3 linked regions of the Homo sapiens genome follow. The protein of the gene in region 3 purifies or fractionates together with the protein of the main gene of each other region. This does not show direct contact. Each region holds a gene or a part of one and is shown on either strand. Other genes may lie near its edges. The genes, in order: PON2, FAM174A and SLC39A11.

Region 1 (3,753 bases), on a different chromosome or scaffold from region 3:
TACACATGAGCCACCACCCTCGGCCTACTTTACAATTTGATGCACCTTTTCTTTACGTGACTGTGATGCACTTTAATGGGCAGTGACTTTATAAAATGGTAACTTTATTGGATATGTGGAGCCCCAAATGGGCTGACGTGAGAATGTTGGGGTAGGTGGTGGGTGGCTGGATTTAGCAAAGAAAAATGTAGGCTACCCAGTTAACTTTGAATTTCACATGGATTTTTTTTTTTTTTTTTAGTATAAGCATGAAATACTTATACCATACTTTTAGCATTAAGCGTGGAATTTGGGACATAATTATACTAAAATATCATTCATTGTTTATCTCAAATTAAAATATCACTGGGTACCCTGTATTTTATCATATGTTCGAGTGCCTTCTGTCAGAATTTGGTGACCCTTTGAGTCTGTTTTAAAAAGGAGCATGTTTGGCCGGACACAGTGGCTCACGTCTGTAATCCCAGCACTTTGGGAGGCTGAGGCGGGCAGATCACTAGAGGTCAGGGGTTCAAGACCAGCCTGGCCAACATGGTGAAACCCCGTCTCTAATAAAAATACAAAAATTAGCCAGGTGTGGTGGTGCATCCCTGTAATCCCAGCTACTTGGGAGGCTGAGTCAGGAGAATTGCTTGAACCCCAGAGGTAGAGGTTGCAGTGAGCCAAGATTGAGCCACTGGACTCCAGCCTGGACAACAGAGAAAGACTCCCTCAAAAAAAAAAGAAAAAAAGCATGTTCCCACCTCCCCATAAGGAAAGGCTCTTCAGAGGAAGTTGAAGGAACAGAGGCTTTATGTTTGATTTTTGCTTTAATCTGATGCCTACTGTTTGATTATTCAATATTTAGAGATGGTACTTTGGCAATCAAGTTATTTCTCTCCCCAGGTTGCCCACTTCAATTTTTAGTATAAGGATGTCCCAGAGGGATAAATGCCATCAAAGTTGTCTTTCTTCTTCTGAACTGTAACTGGGATTCCACACCCTCCTTTTCCACCCCTCCCTAGTTGAGCAATAAAGGGGAAAATAACAGTATACAAATATTCCCAGGCCAGTTCCTGGTGTCAAGGTACACAGCCATGGATGAATCATGAGGCTTGAGTGCATCAGAGACCTAAGCGTGGGCAGGAACCCCCAGAGTACCCATGTGAATGTTCTGCTTGCTGCCTCGCACCTTTTATGACAATTCCCACAAGAAGCTATGTGGTCTGTTTCTACTTCTGAAAGAGCAGCCTTTTTCCCTTTTTTTTTTTTTTAAACCACCATCCTTTAAATCATTTATTATGTAACTCTTGTGTGCTGGTCAGTCAGTGTGTCAAAAGTGTAAAAACTTCTTTATTTATTTTTTTAATCTATCTTTTAAAAAATATTTTCTTTCTTTTTTTCTTTTTTCTTCAAGGCAGGTTCTTGCTCTGTCACCCAGGCTGGAGTGCAGCAGCACAATCATAGCTCATTGTAACCCAGAACACCTGGGCTCAAGCAATCCTCCCACCTCAGCCTCCTAAGCAGTGAGGACTATAGGCATGCACCACTACACCTGGCTAATTAAAAAAACATGGCCGGGCACGGTGGCTCATTACTATAATCCCAGCACTTTGGGAGGCTGAGGCGGGTGGATACCTGAGGTCGGGAGTTCAAGACCAGCCTGACCAACATGGTGAAACCCCATCTCTACTAAAAATACAAAATTAGCCAGGCACGGTGGCACATGCCTGTAATCCCAGCTACTCAGGAGGCTGAGGCAGGAGAATCACTTGAACCCGGGAGGCGGAGGTTGCAGTGAGCCATTGCACTCCAGCCTGGCAACAGAGCGAGACTCTGTCTCAAAAAAAAAAAAACAAAAAAATTTTTTTGTAGAGATGGGGGTCTTGCTGTGTTGCCCAGGCTGATCTCAAACTTCTAGCCATAAGTGATCCTACCGCATCAACTTCCCAAAGCACTGGGATTATGGGTATGAGCTACTGAGCCCTGCCAAATTTCTTTATATTAAACCAAAACGTACATTTACTGATATTTGGAAAGAAAGCTCTTTTACTTTTATGCCTTCATCCAGTCTTCATAGATATCTTCCCTTTTACATTATAACTGTAAATACTGAGGTTAGAGAGGTTAACTAGTTAGTTCAACAGAATAATATAAATATTGAATAATATAATTAATGAATAATTAGTGCTGAACCTGTCGCCTCAGCCAGGTCTCCTGATTCCAAATACAGTTTGCCCCAGCTCCCCACAGTCTTCTAGCTTCTCTGCCAGTGGAGCAAATTTTCCCTAGGTTTACAGGCCTAAGCACAGATTCTTAGTTACTTAGTGCAAGTATTGCCAGAGCCCAAGGGGTGAATTCCAAAGGGTTTTTACAAGGCTATACATAAAAGATAAAGCCCTGGCTTGTATATCACTTGCACATAGGAGATAAAGCCCCAGCAGTTGTATGTAAATTTCAAAAGCAGAGAAGTATGGCACAAAGAAACTCCTGATAGTAACACTGTGTTCCCACTTTGCTTAGGGGCATATTGGCACCGTAGCATGGTACACCCTTACTGCTACCTGCCATGAGGCCAGATAATAGCTAGCAGCCCCTGGTCTCATTCTACTCTGGATGGGTACTGCTGTTTCCTGAATGAAAGACACTGAGATTGATTTCATGCTAATGACTGTTGGTTAAGAGTTCATGCTTTCTATTCACAATAGCAAAGACTTGGAACCAACCCAAATGTCCGTCAATGATAGACTGGATTAAGAAAACGTGGCACATATACACCATGGAATACTATGCAGCCATAAAAAAGGATGAGTTCATGTCCTTTGTAGGGACATGGATGAAGCTGGAAACCGTCATTCTTAGCAAACTATTGGAAGGACAGAAAACCAAACACCACATGTTCTCACTTATAGGTGGGAATTGAACAATGAGAACACTTGGATACAGGAAGGGGAACATCACACACCGGGGCCTCTTGTGGGGTAGGGGGAGGGGGGAGGGATAGCATTAGGAGATATACCTAATGTAAATGACGAGTTAATGGGTGCAGCAGACCAACATGGCACATGTATACATATGTAACAAACCTGCACGTTGTGCACATGTACCCTAGAACTTAAAGTATAAAAAAAAAAAAAAGTTCATGCTTTGTGGACAGGTAGCCTGAGTTCATTCATAGCTCTACTATTTACCTGAAACCTTGGACTAATTATTTCACTTTTCTGTGCCCCAGTGTTGTAATCTGTAGGATGGGGTACTGCCTGCTCCACAGTGGGACTATGAGAATGCTTAAAATAATGCCAAGCGCACAGTCAGCTCAATAAATGTCATCTATGTAGACAATGAAATTCAAGCATAATTCCTTAAACCTTTGTGCCATACATCCCTTTGGCAGTCTGGTAAAGCCTTCATTCCTTCTCAGCATCATGTTTTTAAATGAGTAAAATAAAATATATAGGATTACACAGGAAACCAATTAAATACTGCTACCAAGCTATTTAAAAATCTATGATATAATATGCTTTTTAAATTAAACCCTTAAATGGATCTAGAGGTAGGTAAATGTCTAACAGCAGATATTTTGAAGTTGCAATGAATGTAAATGGCACTTTGAGCTATCTACAACTGAAATGCGATAGAAAAGTATCTATAATTTCTATTAGTGACAGTCACAAATACTACTAATAGTATTGTGGTTTGTTGCTTATACTCATCATCAAAGGAAATACTCAATTTGAGTTAAAGGTTTAAATAAAGATGTATTTTTCCCCCATC
Region 2 (3,753 bases), on a different chromosome or scaffold from region 3:
GACATATATAGATATAAATATAGATATACAGGACTTAGTAGTCCAATTTTTGTTGAGTCATCTTCTTTTCTGTAATCCTAAGATTTCTGTTTTCTTTGCATTTGTACCTGACTCTGGACTCTAATTCTCCTTCACCCAAGTAATCCCTCTGGATTCCAAGATGTCTTTCCTTATTAGGTTGAATCTTTGTTGGCTTTTTTCCCCATTCTATTTACATTGGCATTTATTCTATACTCATGTCATTTTATTTATCTAAACCTCTTAGGAAAGGTCTTAACACTTACTGAGAATAGATCTCAGTATATATATTACAGCTACATGATCAGACCATAAACAATTAGTCCCCCAATTCTGCAAGGCAGCACTATTTACAAACACTAGAACCCAAACTAAAAAGAAAATATCTTCAGAATACAAAAAGGAAATTAAATTTAATAAGTATTTCTCTCTCACACACACACACACAAACACACACGCACACAAACACACATGCACACACACACCCAAGTTAATACATATTGCAAGAATGAAGAAGTTAATGGGTCCTAGGCTTAATAACTGGGTGATGAAATAATCTGTACGACAAAACCACATGACACAAGTTTACCTATGTAACGACCCTGCACTTGTACCCCTGAACTTAAAATAAAAGATAAAAACAGAAGAATAAATTAAAAAAAATATTTTGAGATGGTATTCTATTGTTTGTATCTATTTGAGCAAAACAACGTGAATGTGAGCTATGGGGTAGATAGCAAAAAGAACTTCAGTAAACAGAACTGAAGAAACTGTGTTGGAATATAAGCTGTTAAATGAAAGTCTACTTTACTTCTTCAGTTTACTTGGCAAGGACTTGCTTCCTGATTCATGGAATTAAACTACTGGAATACTTACCTTCGAGGATGATTGGCATCAAACAACGTGTTGTCATCATCCTCATCATCCTGTTCTAAAGGTGTCAATTCCATATTTTCTATGTTAGTGTCCAAAACTCCATATCTCCTAGTCTTTCGGTTTCTTCTTCTCATCCTATCAAATAGAACAAATTAATGAATAAAAATTATTTAATATGGCATAGTTTATATTTATTTATAAAATAAATTATTATTCTGTTTCTGACATAGCAAACAATATCAGAATGGTTACATTTCAGATATGCAACAAATTTACCACCTAGGATTAAACTTCATGAAACAAAACCTACTCCTACATGTTTATGTGCCATCGCCTGTTTCTTCTGTCTGACATACTCTCTTCTCTCTGTGTCAACTGATGGTGTTGACAAATAACTTTTAAGCCTTAAATTCAGGTACCGTACTTTAAACCTTAATTTTTAAAGGCTTAGGTCAGGTACTTCTTTACTGAAACCTCCTGCTCCAGCCTTTTCCCCATGTCCTCCCCGCTTTCTTACCACTGTTTAGATGCCCCTCTAAGAAACTGTATGTATATGCATATTCACAGACTAAACTGATAGCCCACAACTCTAGCTGCACACTAGAATTACCTGGGAGTATTTTTTAAAGTCCCATGTTTAGGACATAACTGAATCAAAATGTACAGCAAAAAAGAACTAAATATGAATATTTTGTTGAGGTTCTAAATGTGATTCCAATGTGATATAAACCATTATCTGAGATCAGTGGTTCTTGCAGTGTGGTTCTCTGGATCAGCAGAATCACAGTCACCTAGGAAGTTACGAGAAATGCAAATCTTCATGGCTAGCCCAGACCTAGTGAATAACAAACTTTGAAGATGGGGCCCAGAAACCTGTCTTTTAACAAACATTTCTTATGCTTTTGATGCATATTCAAGTTTGAGAACCACTGGCTTAGAGAAATTCAAAAGATTCAAGGGTGCTTAACATTCATTATTAGCCATATGAATGAAATCTCAAGATTTAGAGTCCTACTTCCAGTTTGTGTCTCAAATAACTTGTTCTTTTCCTTCAAATCATTTACCTTAATTTGCATTCCTATGTGCTGATGTATATGTTTATGTGGGGTTTATTCATCTGTCTCTCCCACTAAGTTCTCTGAGGGCAGCAACCAAGACTGCTTTATTCACCACTACATAACCACTTCCTAGCACAGTGATGTATCAATTAAGATGTTCTTCAATTAATTGTTGAGGGTCTGAGTGACTTCTACTTTGGCGACCAAAACTGTGACCCTGCAAGGAATGCCTAAGTCATCTCCAATGCAACAACTTCAACTCCACAGACAGCAAAATGTGTTTCACAAGAGTGTCCACTGGAGTTTGAAAATAAATAGAAAATATTTCAGCAAGTTATCACAAATAAAATCAGTTTACATAAATTCTGATTTACTCTGTTTGACATATGTGGGATAAGAAATACTTGGGCTATAACATCAACTGTAAAGAGCAACATGAGACTCCTCAAACATGACAGTGAAGCTCCTGGAAAACAAACATACCTTCAACAAATAATTGAGTCTTATTAAGCATCAGGTATGATATTAGCACCTGGGTGTAAAGTGCCTGGTCTCAGTGTTAAAATTTACAAAATGTTACTAAGTGTGAGTACAAACAAAGAAAATTTCCACCAGTCATTACCTATAGAGCTATCTATATACACGTCTAAAGTGATGGAACAGGAAACAGAGAGTTAAGCATAGCATTTAAAGTTACAAATGTAACCAATGAAAGGGTCAGTAAATATTAGTACTAGCAAAAATGAAGCAGTATGAAATACAAAGTACTCTTTCTTTCACAGTGAGAAATTAAGTATGTTTAGGTTGTTACATTAACATGTATATGTGTGTGTATGTGTGCAAACACACCCACACACACCATGTAGACCAGAGGTCTAAACTTTCTCTATAAAAAACCCAGGCAAACAGGGTCTGGAGTGGACCTCCAGCAAACTCCAATAGACCTGCAGCTGAGGGTCCTGACTGTTAGAAAGAAAGCTAACAAACAGAAAGGACATCCACACCAAAACCCCATCTGTACGTCACCATCATCAAAGACCAAAGGTAGATAAAACCACAAAGATGGGGAAAAAACAGAGCAGAAAAACTGGAAACTCTAAAAATCAGAGTGCCTCTCCTCCTCCAAAGGAACGCAGCTCCTCACCAGCAACGGAACAAAGCTGGAAGGAGAATGACTTTGACGAGTTGAGAGAAGAAGGCTTCAGACGATCAAACTACTCCGAGCTAAAGGAGGAAGTTCGAACCCATGGCAAAGAAGTTAAAAACCTTGAAAAAAAATTAGACAAATGGCTAACTAGAATAACCAATGCAAAGAAGTCCTTAAAGGACCTGATGAAGCTGAAAACCATGGCAAGAGAACTACATGACGAATGCACAAGCCTCAGTAGCCAATGCGAACAACTGGAAGAAAGGGTATCAGTGATGGAAGATCAAATGAATGACATGAAGTGACAAGAGAATTTTAGAGAAAAAAGAATAAAAAGAAACGAACAAAGCCTCCAAGAAATATGGGACTATGTGAAAAGACCAACTCTACGTCTGATTGGTGTACCTGAAAGTGATGGGGAGGATGGAACCAAGTTGGAAAATACTCTGCAGGATATTATCCAGGAGAACTTCCCTGGATAGGGAAGTTCTAGCAAGGCAGGCCAACATTCAAATTCAGGAAATACAGAGAACGCCACAAAGATACTCCTCGAGAAGAGCAACTCCAAGACACATAACTGCCAGATTCACCAAAGTTGAAATGAAGGAAAAAATGTTAAGCACAGCCAGAGAAAACGGTCGGGTTACCCACAAA
Region 3 (3,753 bases):
CTGTCCTGTGCAGGTAAGCTGGCCCTTTTCCATCCAGCACATATTTTTCAGGGGTTACAAAGCCCTATTTTACAGGGGTGCCAAATGTGAAAAAGCACCGTCCCCGTCCTCAAGCAACTAAGGCTGTAAAAGATGGAGGCAAAGCCACACTGAGAGAGGACCAAAGCTGCATGCTAGGACAGGGCTGGGGAAGGCCAGAAAAGCCTTGGTCGTGAGGTTGGCATTATGTGGGCTGCAGAGGGTGCTCCGGGTTCTGATGGCTGGAAATGTGCAAGGAAGGTATTCCAGGAGGGAACTGCATGAACAGGGACTTGGAGGCAGGATTGTCTGGGGCTTGTGGAAGGTGCCATAAATAATTCAGTTGAGCTGGAGTTGGGTGCTCGTGCAGGCATGATGGAGAACGGGATTGGAGAGTCGGGGGTTGGTGGGTATCAAAAGTTGGTTGGTGGAGTTTACCCTTTGGCTGGGCAGGTGCGCTGTTGCAGATGTGATGGGGATTAAGATTGGAAGCGTGTTGACATCACCTGAGCTAGTCACCTGTCTTTGGTGGAGGCTGAGTGCGGATGGTGGGCAAGAGACGGTAGAAGAGGCAGATTATGTGGGGGAGGCTGCATCAGACCCTCCTATGCCCCCTTCTTCTGGAATAAACCACATTCTTTGTGCTTCTCTTTGAAACCACTTTTCAATGTTGCAGCCTTTTTTGTGGATTCCCCTGGCATCTCCCTGTGCCTTCTTTCAGATTAAGACGATTTCCAGTTCCTGGGGGACCTGGATAGAGAAGCCTGACCTGTGTGCTGGGTGGCTGAGGGACACAGATGGCGTGGTGGAAGGGTGCATACGGTCAACCTGGAGGGAGGCCAGCTCCCACACAGGGTGTTAGGACCCGTCAGAATATGCGCCTGTCACTGAAACGGACCACCGGTGGCTGACCCTCTCGCTCCTCTTGCACAGCTGTATCCAGCATGCTCCAAGGCCACAGCTCTGTGTTCCAGGCCTTGCTGGGGACCTTCTTCACCTGGGGGATGACAGCAGCTGGGGCAGCTCTCGTGTTCGTATTCTCTAGTGGACAGGTGAGTTGCCTTGCTTTGGTTCTGGATGTTGGTGGGGAGCCCGTTGGTAAAGGGGCACTGTCCCACTCCATGGAGCAGGTTTGTAGACTTTTCAGTGCCCCTGGCCACACCCCCAGGCATTGTGTACTGGGGTTTGTTCGCTGTCTTCTTATTTTCTCACCTTCTCCCTGCCAGGCCGGGAGAACAGATGTCTGCTTGCTGTAGACACCTTCATGCACCATCATCTCCCCTCTTGACCCTTGACAGCCTGACTTGAAGGGAATAGGAAGTGAGAAGCCCAGTTATTGAGGCTTCGTTAGCCCGCTGCCTAATTTCTACCTGCCATGTAATTTCTTTTCTTTTTTCTTTTTTCTTTTTTTTTTTGAGACAGAATCTTGCTCTGTTGCCCAGCCTGGCGTGCAGTGGCAGGATCTCAGCTCTCTGCAACCTCCACCTCCCGGGTTCAAGTGATTCTCCTGCCTCAGCCTCCAGAGTAGCTGGGATTACAGGCATGTGCCACCACGCCTGGCTAATTTTTGTATTTTTAGTAGAGGTGGGATTTCACCACTGGTCTCAAACTCCTGACCTCAGATGATCCACCCACCTCGGCCTCCCACAGTGCTGGGATTGCAGGTGTGAGCCACCGTGCCTGGCCTGCCATGTAATTTCTTTCAGGCCTGGAGCAAGTGGTACTATGCGTGACCGAAGAACATTAGATTTCAGGTGTAACTGTCCTCCCCTGTGGACTTGAGTTGGGTGGGATGGTTGGAAAGACCTTGGGAGAAGAAGGGGCATCTGTTCCCTTTTTTTTCAACCCATCTCCAGGTTGTTTCCTTTCCCCTTGGGATGAATATAGACAGACCCATGTCCCTGGCCCCCTGCAAACTCTTACTTCTTTCTCCTACATCTTCCTTGTATCCTACTCCCAGTGCCCTCACTCACTGTCATGGCCCCACAGCCTATCTCTCCCTCCTCCCACAACCCCATCCTTACACCCCTTCTACACGCTCTACCTATAGTCCCACATACCCACACTTGCACACATACCCATACCCATATGCCCTCCCCACACCTCTGCACAACCCACACTCACCTCATATACCTGAAATTGCATTCTTTTCTCCAACCCAGATCACCCTCAGTCCGCAGCCCTGGAGCCATCCATGGGTATCTTGATGAATGCACAATCCCTGCATCGATCACCTCGGTAGCCTGAGACATTGTAGAAACGGCAAATGAATAAGTGACTTAAGATCTAGTTCAACATGTTGTGAGGGAGATCTGGAAATGAAAACACCTTTAGGAAGTTCACAAGTCAGGCACTCTTGTGTTAGAGACCAGTACAGCAGGCCTTGATTTCAACAATAAAATCCCGACCTCCCTTGCTGCGCTGCACTGCCCCCGGGAGCTGATGGGTTGGAGACTGGAAATCAGAAAACACACAATCCAGAAACATGGTTTATCTGGAACCTAGGTATATAAGATGCCAAGATAAGTCAAATTCACAGAGACACATTGTAGAATGGTGATTGCCAGGGGCCACAGAGGAGGGCAGAAATAAGTTATTCTTGAATGAGTACAGAGTTTCAGGGTTTTTTGTTTTTGTTTGTTTTTTTTTTCTTTAGACAGAGTCTTGCTCTGTCACCCAGGCTGGAGTGCAGTGGCGTGATCTTGGTTCACTGCAACCTCTGCTTCCCAGGTTCAAAAGGTTCTTCTGCCTCAGCCTCCCGAGTAGCTGGGATTACATGCATACACCACCACGCTCAGCTAATTTTTTTTGTAGTTTTAGTAGAGACGGGGTTTCGCTGGTAACCCCATCCGGCCAGGCTGTTTTATTTATTTATTTTTTATTTTTTTTGAGCTAGAGTCTTGCCCTGTCACCCAGGCTGGGGTTCAGTGGCATGATCTCAGCTCACTGCAACCTCCACCTCCTGGGTTCAAGTGATCGTCCCACCTCAGCCTCCCAAGTAGCTGAGACTACGGGTGTGCACCACCATGCCCAGCTAATTTTTGTATTTGTAGTGGAGATGGGGTTTCACTATGTTGCTCAGGCAGGTTTTGAGCTCCTGACCTCAAGTGATCTGCCTGCCTCGGCCTCCCAGACTGCTGGGATTACAGGTGTGCACCATCATGCCCAGCTGAGTTTTAATTTTGTAAGGTGAAAAGTTCTGTAGACCACATGGCTTCTTTCACTTCAAAGAATGTCCATAGAGCTCATCCACGTTATAACATGTGCCAGAATTTCTTTTGTTTTTAAGGCTGAAGACTATTCCATTGTATGTACATACCACATTTTGTTTATCCATTCATCTATGGATAGATAGCAAAAAAAAAAAAATCTGTATTGAAATAGAAGATGCTTATGGAAAAATGCACATTTTATTAGGCTGGTGCATTTTATTAGGTTTGCACCAACCTAATATAAGTATGCAGCTTGATAACTTTCCACAAGTGCTCATGAAACTAGAGCCCAGATCAAGAAACAAAACAGTACCAGCTCCTCACCTCACAGCCCCTTCCAATCAGGAGCCTTCAGTCTCCCTTCCAATCTCACCATCCCCAACCTTTACTCCAAGGGTCATCTCCCATGTGATCTCTAACAGCACGGATATTTTCCCTGTTTCTGTGCTTTATTTAGATGGAGTAATCATATAGTACGTACTGTTCTGCATCTGGCTGATTTTACCCTACTTGTTTTCCAGTT

What was found.
Region 1: the proteins of SLC39A11 (region 3) and PON2 purify together in Homo sapiens (affinity purification with mass spectrometry; 4 studies listed by BioGRID and IntAct, with this or other methods). This does not show direct contact.
Region 2: the proteins of SLC39A11 (region 3) and FAM174A purify together in Homo sapiens (co-immunoprecipitation; 4 studies listed by BioGRID and IntAct, with this or other methods). This does not show direct contact.

What each region holds. Positions count from the first base shown.
Region 1 is NC_000007.14:95,428,400-95,432,152, reverse strand, and holds part of PON2 (serum paraoxonase/arylesterase 2), read left to right. Parts: intron 1-3,753. UniProt on the Homo sapiens protein: Capable of hydrolyzing lactones and a number of aromatic carboxylic acid esters. Has antioxidant activity. Is not associated with high density lipoprotein.
Region 2 is NC_000005.10:100,559,330-100,563,082, reverse strand, and holds part of FAM174A (membrane protein FAM174A precursor), read right to left. Parts: intron 1,030-3,753; coding exon 895-1,029; intron 1-894.
Region 3 is NC_000017.11:73,085,974-73,089,726, reverse strand, and holds part of SLC39A11 (zinc transporter ZIP11), read left to right. Parts: exon of another isoform or gene 1-13; intron 14-951; 5' UTR 952-962; coding exon 963-1,070; intron 1,071-3,753. UniProt on the Homo sapiens protein: Zinc importer that regulates cytosolic zinc concentrations either via zinc influx from the extracellular compartment or efflux from intracellular organelles such as Golgi apparatus. May transport copper ions as well.